Regions from separate parts of the Homo sapiens genome. Here all the other regions are linked to region 3. Evidence: fine-mapped expression QTL. A gene starts in region 3. Each other region holds a variant in brackets. All regions are shown on one strand. Distances are between the middles of the regions. Region 1 has its middle 5.8 kb from the start of CD4. Region 2 overlaps SLC2A14 (solute carrier family 2 member 14). Region 3 holds the start of SPSB2 (splA/ryanodine receptor domain and SOCS box containing 2).

Region 1 (2,757 bases), 90 kb before region 3:
ATGGGGCCTCTCACAACACGACACAGCAACTGGCTTCCCCCAGAGGGACAGCGTGGAAAAGACAAAAGCTACCACATCTTTATTTCAAGATTAGATTTGATCTTGAAAGCAACGTGCCATAATTTCTGCCCTATTCTATTGATCACAGAGACCAACCTGGTGCAAGCAGGAGGGGGCAATGCAAGGGTGTGAACTGAGGGAGACAGGAGTCACTGGGGGCCATCTTGCAGCCTGGCTGTCAGAGTGGGGAGCAGTGCCTGAAACAGAGATAGGCCAAGAGACGGGAAGGGACGTCTCTGAGCATCTCCATCCCCAGCCCTCTTCTCTTGTCCACTCTCCAGAAGTTCTGGAAGCCAAGTGAGGTCCAGGGCCTTGGCAAGTCGAGTGTGTGAGGTAGGAGGCCATACTGTGCACATTCAGCCTTGGAGTCGGGTTTGCCAGCGGTTCCCCTACCCCTGACGTGGTCTTCTCAGCTCCATAGTGCAGAGGAGGAGCCTCTGCAGGCCCAGAAATTTCCCTGCCCACCTCCCCTACCAGGTAGAGATGTTAGGGTTCAGGCCTGAGCCCCTGCTGCTATCCCTCCTTCAAAGGAGGAGATCAAGGAGCTTAGGGTCCCCCGCACAGGCCCACCCCAGGGTGGGGTTCTTCCTTTGAAGGGAATTGCTTTGGGGTGGGGTCGGTTCTATCTGCTCCACTCTGTGGCTGACAGTTTCTCCAAGGGGCTGCAGGTGTCAGCTGTCTGAGCCCGGGCTGAGCTCTGAAACGTGCCTACTCAAACTTCCCGTGGGGTAGGGGAGGCCCAGAACCACCCTCTGAGAGTGGCAAAAAGTGGTCCTGGAGCCAGGGGAAATGTGGATGGGGTAGAGATGGCATCGATGCTCCTAGACTTTGCTTCCCAGAGAACAGCCCCAAAGACCCCTCCCCTGCTCCCCATCCTCAAACCCTGCCCCCAGCCCCCTTTGCAGAGGGCGTCAGTGCTGCCAAAGATACTTCTGGTAAGGAGGCCACCGCAGAGTTGCACCTGGGGCTTTCAACTTTCCTGCAACCCTGGCTGCCCTAGGCCTCTCAGATCATCCAGTCTCCAGCACTCTGTCTGTAGCCTCTGACACCGGCTTCTCTCTCTTCCCCATCACTCCTTCCCCTGGCTTGGCCTCCTCCCGTTCTACAGCCTAGAGAGGCAGGATACATGCAGCAAAAATAGCCTCTGGAACTCCCCCTGTTCCATGCTTTCAGACATGTGATGGGGGCAGACAGCTTGACTTCCATTTCTTCTTCTGTAAAGTAAGGATAGTAACAGCAACACCTACCAAAAAGGTCTGGCATGTACAAATGAATGTGAAAGTGCTTGGAAAATGGAAAACCACTCTAGAGATGTGAGGACCATGGCACTGCTGAGCCTCAGAAGCTCCAGGTGAGGCAGTGGGCCTCATACCTCCCTCCACTGCTAAGGGAGAAGACTTCTCTTAGCTGTCATCCTGGCCTTTCTTCTTCTTTTTTTATTTTTTATTTTTTTTTTAGAGGTGGGTTCTCGTTATGTTGCCCAG[G/A]CTGGTGCGCAGTGGCTATTTACAGGCCCGATCCCACTGCTGATTAGCATGGGTAGCATGGAAATTGTGACCCATTGTGTGTCCGGCCTGGGCTGGCTCACCCCTCCTCAGGCAATCTGGTGGTTCCCCACTCCCGGGAGGTCACCACGCTGAAGCTGAACTCAGTGCAGACACCTGATCTGCATAGTGCACTACAGCCCAGAACTCCTGGGCTCAAGGCATCCTCTTGCTTCAGCCTCCTGAGTAGCTGAGACTACAGGCACTCGGCACCACGCCCCGCCTGGACCTTCTTTTTTTGGTTTGTTTGTTTTTGTTTTTGTTTTTGTATTTTTAGTAGAGATGGGGTTTCACCGTGTTAGCCGGGATGGTCTGGATCTCCTGACATCACAATCCGCCCGCCTCGGCCTCCCAAAGTGCTGGGATTACAGGCACGAGCCACCATGCCTGGTCCTGGACCTTCTTAATGCAGAGGAGAGGCAGTGCAATGAGGGGGACCACCCAGAAACTGGGGTCCAAGCGGGTGAATTCAAATCCCGGTTCCACCAGCTGTGGTTACTAGCTCTGAGACCTTTGACAACTGAAACTCTTCGGCTAGGCACAGTGTGACTCATGCCTGTAATCCCAGCACTTTGGGAGGCTGAGGTGGGTGGATTGCTTGAACCTAGGAGTTTGAGATCAGCCTGGGAAGCATAGCAAAACCCCATCTCTAGGGGAAAAAAAAATTTAGCTGGGTACAGTGGCACATGCCTGTAGTTCCAGCTACTTGAGAGGCTAAGGCGGGAGGATAGATTGAGCCCTGGAGGTTGAGGCTGCAGTGAGCTGTGACCGTGCCACTGCACTGCAGCCTGGGTGACAGAACGAGACCTTGTCTAAGAAAACAAAAAACTCTTCAAGCCTCAGTTTCCTCATCTGTATGGCCTGGACAATAATACCTATGTCTTATCACTCTCATGAGGATTAAATAAAAGATACAACCACATAAAGCACACAACAATGCCAAATGTTTACTATAAACTCACCCTCTCTCTTCCTTTTTTCTTTTCCTGTTTGGAAACCCCAGAGAGAGAGCCAGGTTCTCAGGACCGTTGACTTCCAGGCCACAGACTCACAGAGCTGCAAGTTCTCACACCGTCCATCGGGTCTGGAATCTGCAAACCGGTGGGCCCAAAGCTAGAGCCAGCCCTTGGAATGCTCTGTTTGCTCTACCCAGTGT
Region 2 (2,757 bases), 940 kb after region 3:
TAAGTTTATGGGTTTCTGCTCCTACCAGGAAGGTCCTACTCTTTCCCTGCTTTTCTCAGTGTTCCTACCTTTCAATAATAAAAAAACAATTGGCCGGGCGCGGTGGCTCACGCCTGTAATCCCAGCACTTTGGGAGGCCGAGGTGGGCGGATCAGTTGAGCTCAGGTGTTCAAGACCAGCCTGGCCAACATGGTGAAACCCCGTCTCTACAATACTACAAAAATAGCCAGGCATGACAGTGTGTGCCTGTACTCCCAGCTACTGGGGAGGCTGAGGCGGGAGAATTACTTGATCCCTGAAGACTAAGGTTGCAGTGAGCCGAGATCACACCATTGCACTGCAGCCTGGGCAACTGAGAAAGACTCCATCTCAAATAAATAAATAGTTAATTAATTAAAAAAACAATTGTAATGTGAAAGGCTTGGTCGCTCGAATCTGAAGTCCAAGCTAGTCAGGAGGCTGAAGCCGGACAGTTGCTTGAGCCCAGGAGAATAGCCCGGGCAATACAGTGATATCCTGTTCCCCTCCTCCGATAAAAAACAATTATAATCCTTGGGAAGACAAATTTTAGTATAATATACTTTTTTTGTTTTTTGAGATAGGGACTCTGTCACTCAGGCTGGAGTGCAGTGGTGCGATCTTGGCTCATTGCAGACTCAATCGCCTGGACTCAGGTGATTCTCCCACCTCAACCTCCCAAGTAGCTGGGACTACAGGCATGTGCCACCATGCCCGGCTTGTTTTCTTTTGTTTTTTGAGATGGACTCTCCCTCTGTCGCCCAGGCTGGAGTGCAGTGGCACGATCTCGGCTCACTGCAAGCTCCGCCTCCCGGGTTCACTCCATTCTCCTGCCTCAGCCTCCTGAGTAGCTGGGACTACAGGCGCCCGCCGCATGCCCCACTAATTTTTTTTTTGTATTTTTAGTAGAGACGGGGTTTCACCGTGTTAGCCAGGATGGTCTCGATCTCCTGACCTTGTGATCCGCCCGCCTCAGCCTCCCAAATTGCTGGGATTACAGGTGTGAGCCACTGCGCCCGGCCGAAGGATTTTAAGTAGGATAGTGATATACAGTCCGACTTCTGTATCTGCAGATGCAAAGAACTACAGATGGAAAATATTTGGGAAAAAAGACAATACAACTATAAAAAACAATACAGTTTAACAATTATTTACATTGTATTAGGTATTAAAAGTAATCTAGAGATGATTTAAAGTGCATGAGATGATGTGCATAGATTATTTGCATTTAAATCATCACAATAATAATTATATGCATTTTTTTTTGAGACCAAGTCTTGCTCTGTCACCAGGCTGGAGTGCAGTGGCGTGATCTCAGCTCACTGCAAACTCCG[C/T]CTCCCAGGTTCAAAGGATTCTCCTGCCTCAGCCTCCTGAGTAACTGGGACTACAGGTGCATGCCACCACACCCAGCTAAGTTTTGTATTTTTAGTAGAGATGGGGTTTCACCATGTTGGCCAAGATGGTCTGGATCTCTTGACCTCGTGATCTGCCCGTCTTGGCCTCGCAAAGTTCTGGGATTACAGGCATAAGCCACTGCACCCAGACTATATGCATTTTATATAAGGGACTTGAGTATCCCTGAATTTTGTTATCTAAGAAGGGGTCTGGGAACCAGTCCCCTGGGGATGGCAAGGGACTGCTGTATGTCACATGGATGCCCTGACAGCAGTGTGGGATGAATTGTAGAGAGCAAAGACTGGAGGAGGAAGGAAGTGGAAAGGAACACGAGAAAAACAGAAAAAAAAAAAAACTAGTTCTCACTGGGGAAAGAAAGCAACATAATTCATCAAGTATGAAAAGCAAGGCACGAAGGCTTTTTCACTTAATCTGCATAATAAACACATATTGCTATTCTCTTTTTTTTTTTGAGACAAAGTCTCACTCTCGTCCCCCAGGCTGGAGTGCAATGGCGCAATCTTGGCTCACTGCAACCTCTGCCTCCTGGGTTCAAGCGATTCTCCTGCCTCAGCCTCCCAAGTAGCTGGGATTATAGGCACCTGCCACCACGCCAGGCTAATTTTTGTATTTTTAGTACAGACAGGGTTTCACCATATTGGCCAGGTGGTCCCAAACTCCCGATCTCAGGTGATCCGCCCTCCTTTGCCTCCCAAAGTGCTGGGATTACAGACATGAGCCACCGGGCCCGGCCAAATATTGCTATTCTCTTATGTATGAGACTCTAAGAACAGAGTCTCATACAAGTCTCAAGGTCACAACAGGTACTGAGTAGCCAACTCAGGATTTAAAGCTGATTTTGTTGTTACAGGAACGGCAAAAAATAAATAAATAATGTGCTTGTGATGTCATGTACATTCAGAATTTTTATTTTAAAACAAAGAATCAAACAAACAATAATGGAAAATCCATATGGAAATATTCACAATCTTCTCAGTGAGAAATAGGAAAACAACTTCCCTGCCTTACTGCCAAACTGAGGAGCCAGAAGTTGACGTGAAGTTGGAAGGCCACCTTTCCAGCTAAACCCCACTCCATAGCTACGTGCATTTTTATTCAAAGGCTCCAGGAGCAGAGGGAACAGTGAGAACTGAGAACCAAAATACTGTCACTGGCAAGGGTTTGGCTAAAGGGTCTGAGATGTGTAAGCACCAAGAAGGGAAAGGGAGACTGAGCAACATATGAAAAAGGGGCTGTAGGAACAAACACAGAGAAAATAAGTCAACAATAACATACTTCCACCCAGAGCAAAGTGACAGTGCACATACATTCATCCTCTCAAGT
Region 3 (2,757 bases):
AGACCCCTAGCCTTTCCCAGCACTGAACAGAGGTTGAGGCAGGCTGGATGAAGGTCCATCCCCTCTGCTCTTGTCAGAAGAGTTTCCATCCCAAACCACTGCCACCAGGGACAGAAAGTTCTCCCCACGTCTGCCCCAGGCCTCACCTCTCCTTTCGCCCAGGTAGCGGATGCGGACCTGGCACTGGCCCCAGACAGCGCTTACTGCCGGATAGAGGGTCCTGCCCTTCAGTCCGCGGAATGCTGGCCCCAGGTAGGTGCCCCCAATAGCGTAGCCCAGAGTTCCCTCCTCCATGTCCAGAACCACCAGCAGTCTCTCTGGCACCTCCAGCTGCTCACCCTGAGTTCCCGCTGGATACTGGGGGGCTCCGGGCCCCTTGCTCTGATGGTACAGCTTCCCCCGCCCGATGTCCCAGCCCCACGACTCGCTGTTGCTGCCCAGCAGCGCCGCGTAGTGGTCAGTCTGCAGCGGGGCGAGGGCCGTGGCCACGCCCACCACGGCATGCGTGCCCCTCTGCTCTAGGGGCCAGCTGATCTCCCAGGCGTGCAGGCCCCTTGAATAGCCCCTCTTACCCCGGGCCCCATCAGTGCTCTGGGCCACGGGCCGCCGCTCAAAGTACAACCCTCCTTCCTTGACCTCGATGTTCTCTGAACAGTCTTTGGGGTTCCAACCGTGGCGCCGCTGGGCCCCCAGGTCAGGAGGGGGTGCAGACAGCAGCTCTTCCAAGCCCTCGGGACAGGAGAGGTCAGGGTACAGGGCCTGTGGCGTGGGGGTGCTGCTGCTGCCCCCTGCCAGAGCTGTCTGGCCCATGGAGGTGAGGAGCTAGAGGACTCCCCGAAAGAGGCTTGCTGGGGCGTCTTTCTCTTCTGAAAGTTGAGCTCCAGTTTGGATTGACCTGGAAGGGAGCTGGGAGAAAAGGGGCGTGAAGAGCAGAATCCTGGCGGGGGCTCGTCACCCAGGTACCCCATCCTTTCACCCAAGTTTGCCAACGGGCCCGCTCCTCCCTCCTCGCTGCCCCAAAGCTCCTGGGCCCTTCATCTGCCCTCGCCCCATCTGATCCAGGTCGCCAGAGACTCTCGCGAGTTCGCCCCATTTGGGCCTCAGCATGGACCATCCCCCTTACTCGCCCGGAGCCCTCGCCGCTGCCCCCGAACCTCGGTTGACTTCCCAGCCCTGGAGGTCGCCGGGCCTCTGAAGGAGCCGGGCGGAAAGAAGCCGAGGCGCGCAGGGCGCAGACCGCCGGCCGCTTCCGCCCCCAGCTCCTCCCTTGGGCCGAGCCCGTCCCGCGGCCCCGCCCCTCCAGGGCCCTCTGGGGCTTAACCCTCTCATCGCCGCCCACGGCCGTGCAGCTCCGAGGCCACGCCCCTGTGGGGCCCCGCCCCCTCCTGGGCAGTTACCGCTCTATACCGGCAGCAGCCGCGGAGAGCATGCCCCGCCCCCGTGGAGCCCACCCCGGGCGGTTAACCTCGGGTCTCAGTCCCGGGCTGTGACCCTCCCCGAGGCCCCGCCCCCACGGCGAAGGCCCGGGGCAGTTAACCCTTCTCTTGCTGCGGCAGAGTCCGCACCCGGGCAGGCCCATCTCAGAATTAACGCTTTGATGGCATCACCGCGTCGGGAATCCCTGGGGATGGTGTTCTCCACCGTCAAGACCTTTGAGCCGCCTGAGCGACTAACTCCTGCGCCCCTGAGGGTAAGGAGCATGGGGTCAAGGAGGGGCTTCATTGTGCCGAATCCCATTTCTACTTCCCTGTGATTCTGGGTCACTGTTTCTGGGCTGGTCCCTTTCTGCCCCGGGTTGTGAGTCAGCCTGTGCCACCTCTGAGGCTGTGAAATCTGCTTCAGGCTCTAGGCTGTACGCATCATAGTTCTCCCTGCTGGTCCAGTCTTCATACTGGATGCCAATCCATTACTGAGCCGTTGATCTCATTTGGTAGAGTGTCCTGATTAAGACTTCGAGTTTGAGTGAAGCTATGCCACTAGTTAACTGCGCGATCTTGGGGAAGTTGCCCGATTTCTCTTTTTTTTTTTTTTGAGACAGGGTCTTGCTGTCACCAAGGCTAGAGTGCAGTGGCGCCATCACAGCCCACTGCAGCCTTGACCTCCTGGGCTCAAGTGATCCTCCTACCTCAGCCTCCCAAGTAGCTGGGACTACAGGCATGTGCTACCACACCCAGCTAATTTTTAAAAAAATATTTTTATTTTTATTTTTATTTTTTTCGAGACAGAGTCTTGCTCTTGTTGCCCAGGCTGGAGTGCAGCGGCACGATCTCGGCTCTCTGTAACCTCCATCTCCCAGGTTCAGGGGATTCTCCTGCCTCAGCCTCCTGAGTAGCTGGGATTACAGGCACCTGCCACCACGCCTAGCTATTTTTTGTATTTTTAGTAGACACAGGGTTTTGCCATGTTGGCCAGGCTGGTCTAGAACTCCTGACCTTGTGATCTGCCTGCCTTAGCCTCCCAAAGTGCTGAGATTACAGGTGTGAGCCACCACGTCCGGCCAAAAAAAAATTTTTTTTAGAGACAGGGTCTCCCAAAGTGCTGGGATTTCAGGCATGAGCCACTACGCCCAGCCCCAGATTTCTGTAGTTTTCTGTTATGTAAAATAGGAGCAATGATGGTAGTTACCTCACAGGGTTGTTGTGCAGTTGAAATAATCCAGGTAAAGCATGTAGCACAGAGCTGGGTACATAGTAGTCACTCACCAAGCATAGCTGTCAATGTGCTTAATGAGTGCCGACACTATAAGGAGGCAATATA

Evidence for each region. PIP is the estimated chance that this variant, and not a neighbour inherited with it, causes the effect.
Region 1: its variant is fine-mapped to the expression of SPSB2 in thyroid (GTEx, PIP above 0.99).
Region 2: its variant is fine-mapped to the expression of SPSB2 in testis (GTEx, PIP 0.98).

What each region holds. Positions count from the first base shown.
Region 1 is chr12:6,782,338-6,785,094 of GRCh38, forward strand. It overlaps the pseudogene RN7SL380P. Among named protein-coding and RNA genes, the nearest start is that of CD4, 5.8 kb to the right of the region's middle. The variant G/A (reference allele first, on the strand shown) is at 1,545.
Region 2 is chr12:7,810,193-7,812,949 of GRCh38, forward strand. It overlaps SLC2A14 (solute carrier family 2 member 14), which reads right to left. Exons shown (of 11, transcript NM_001286234.2): 11 at 2,322-2,757. Among named protein-coding and RNA genes, the nearest start is that of NANOG, 22 kb to the left of the region's middle. The variant C/T (reference allele first, on the strand shown) is at 1,353.
Region 3 is chr12:6,872,092-6,874,848 of GRCh38, forward strand. SPSB2 (splA/ryanodine receptor domain and SOCS box containing 2) reads right to left here and starts at 1,212. Exons shown (of 3, transcript NM_032641.4): 1 at 1,155-1,212; 2 at 147-906. The coding sequence starts at 810. RefSeq lists an enhancer at 542-781 and a silencer at 1,172-1,621.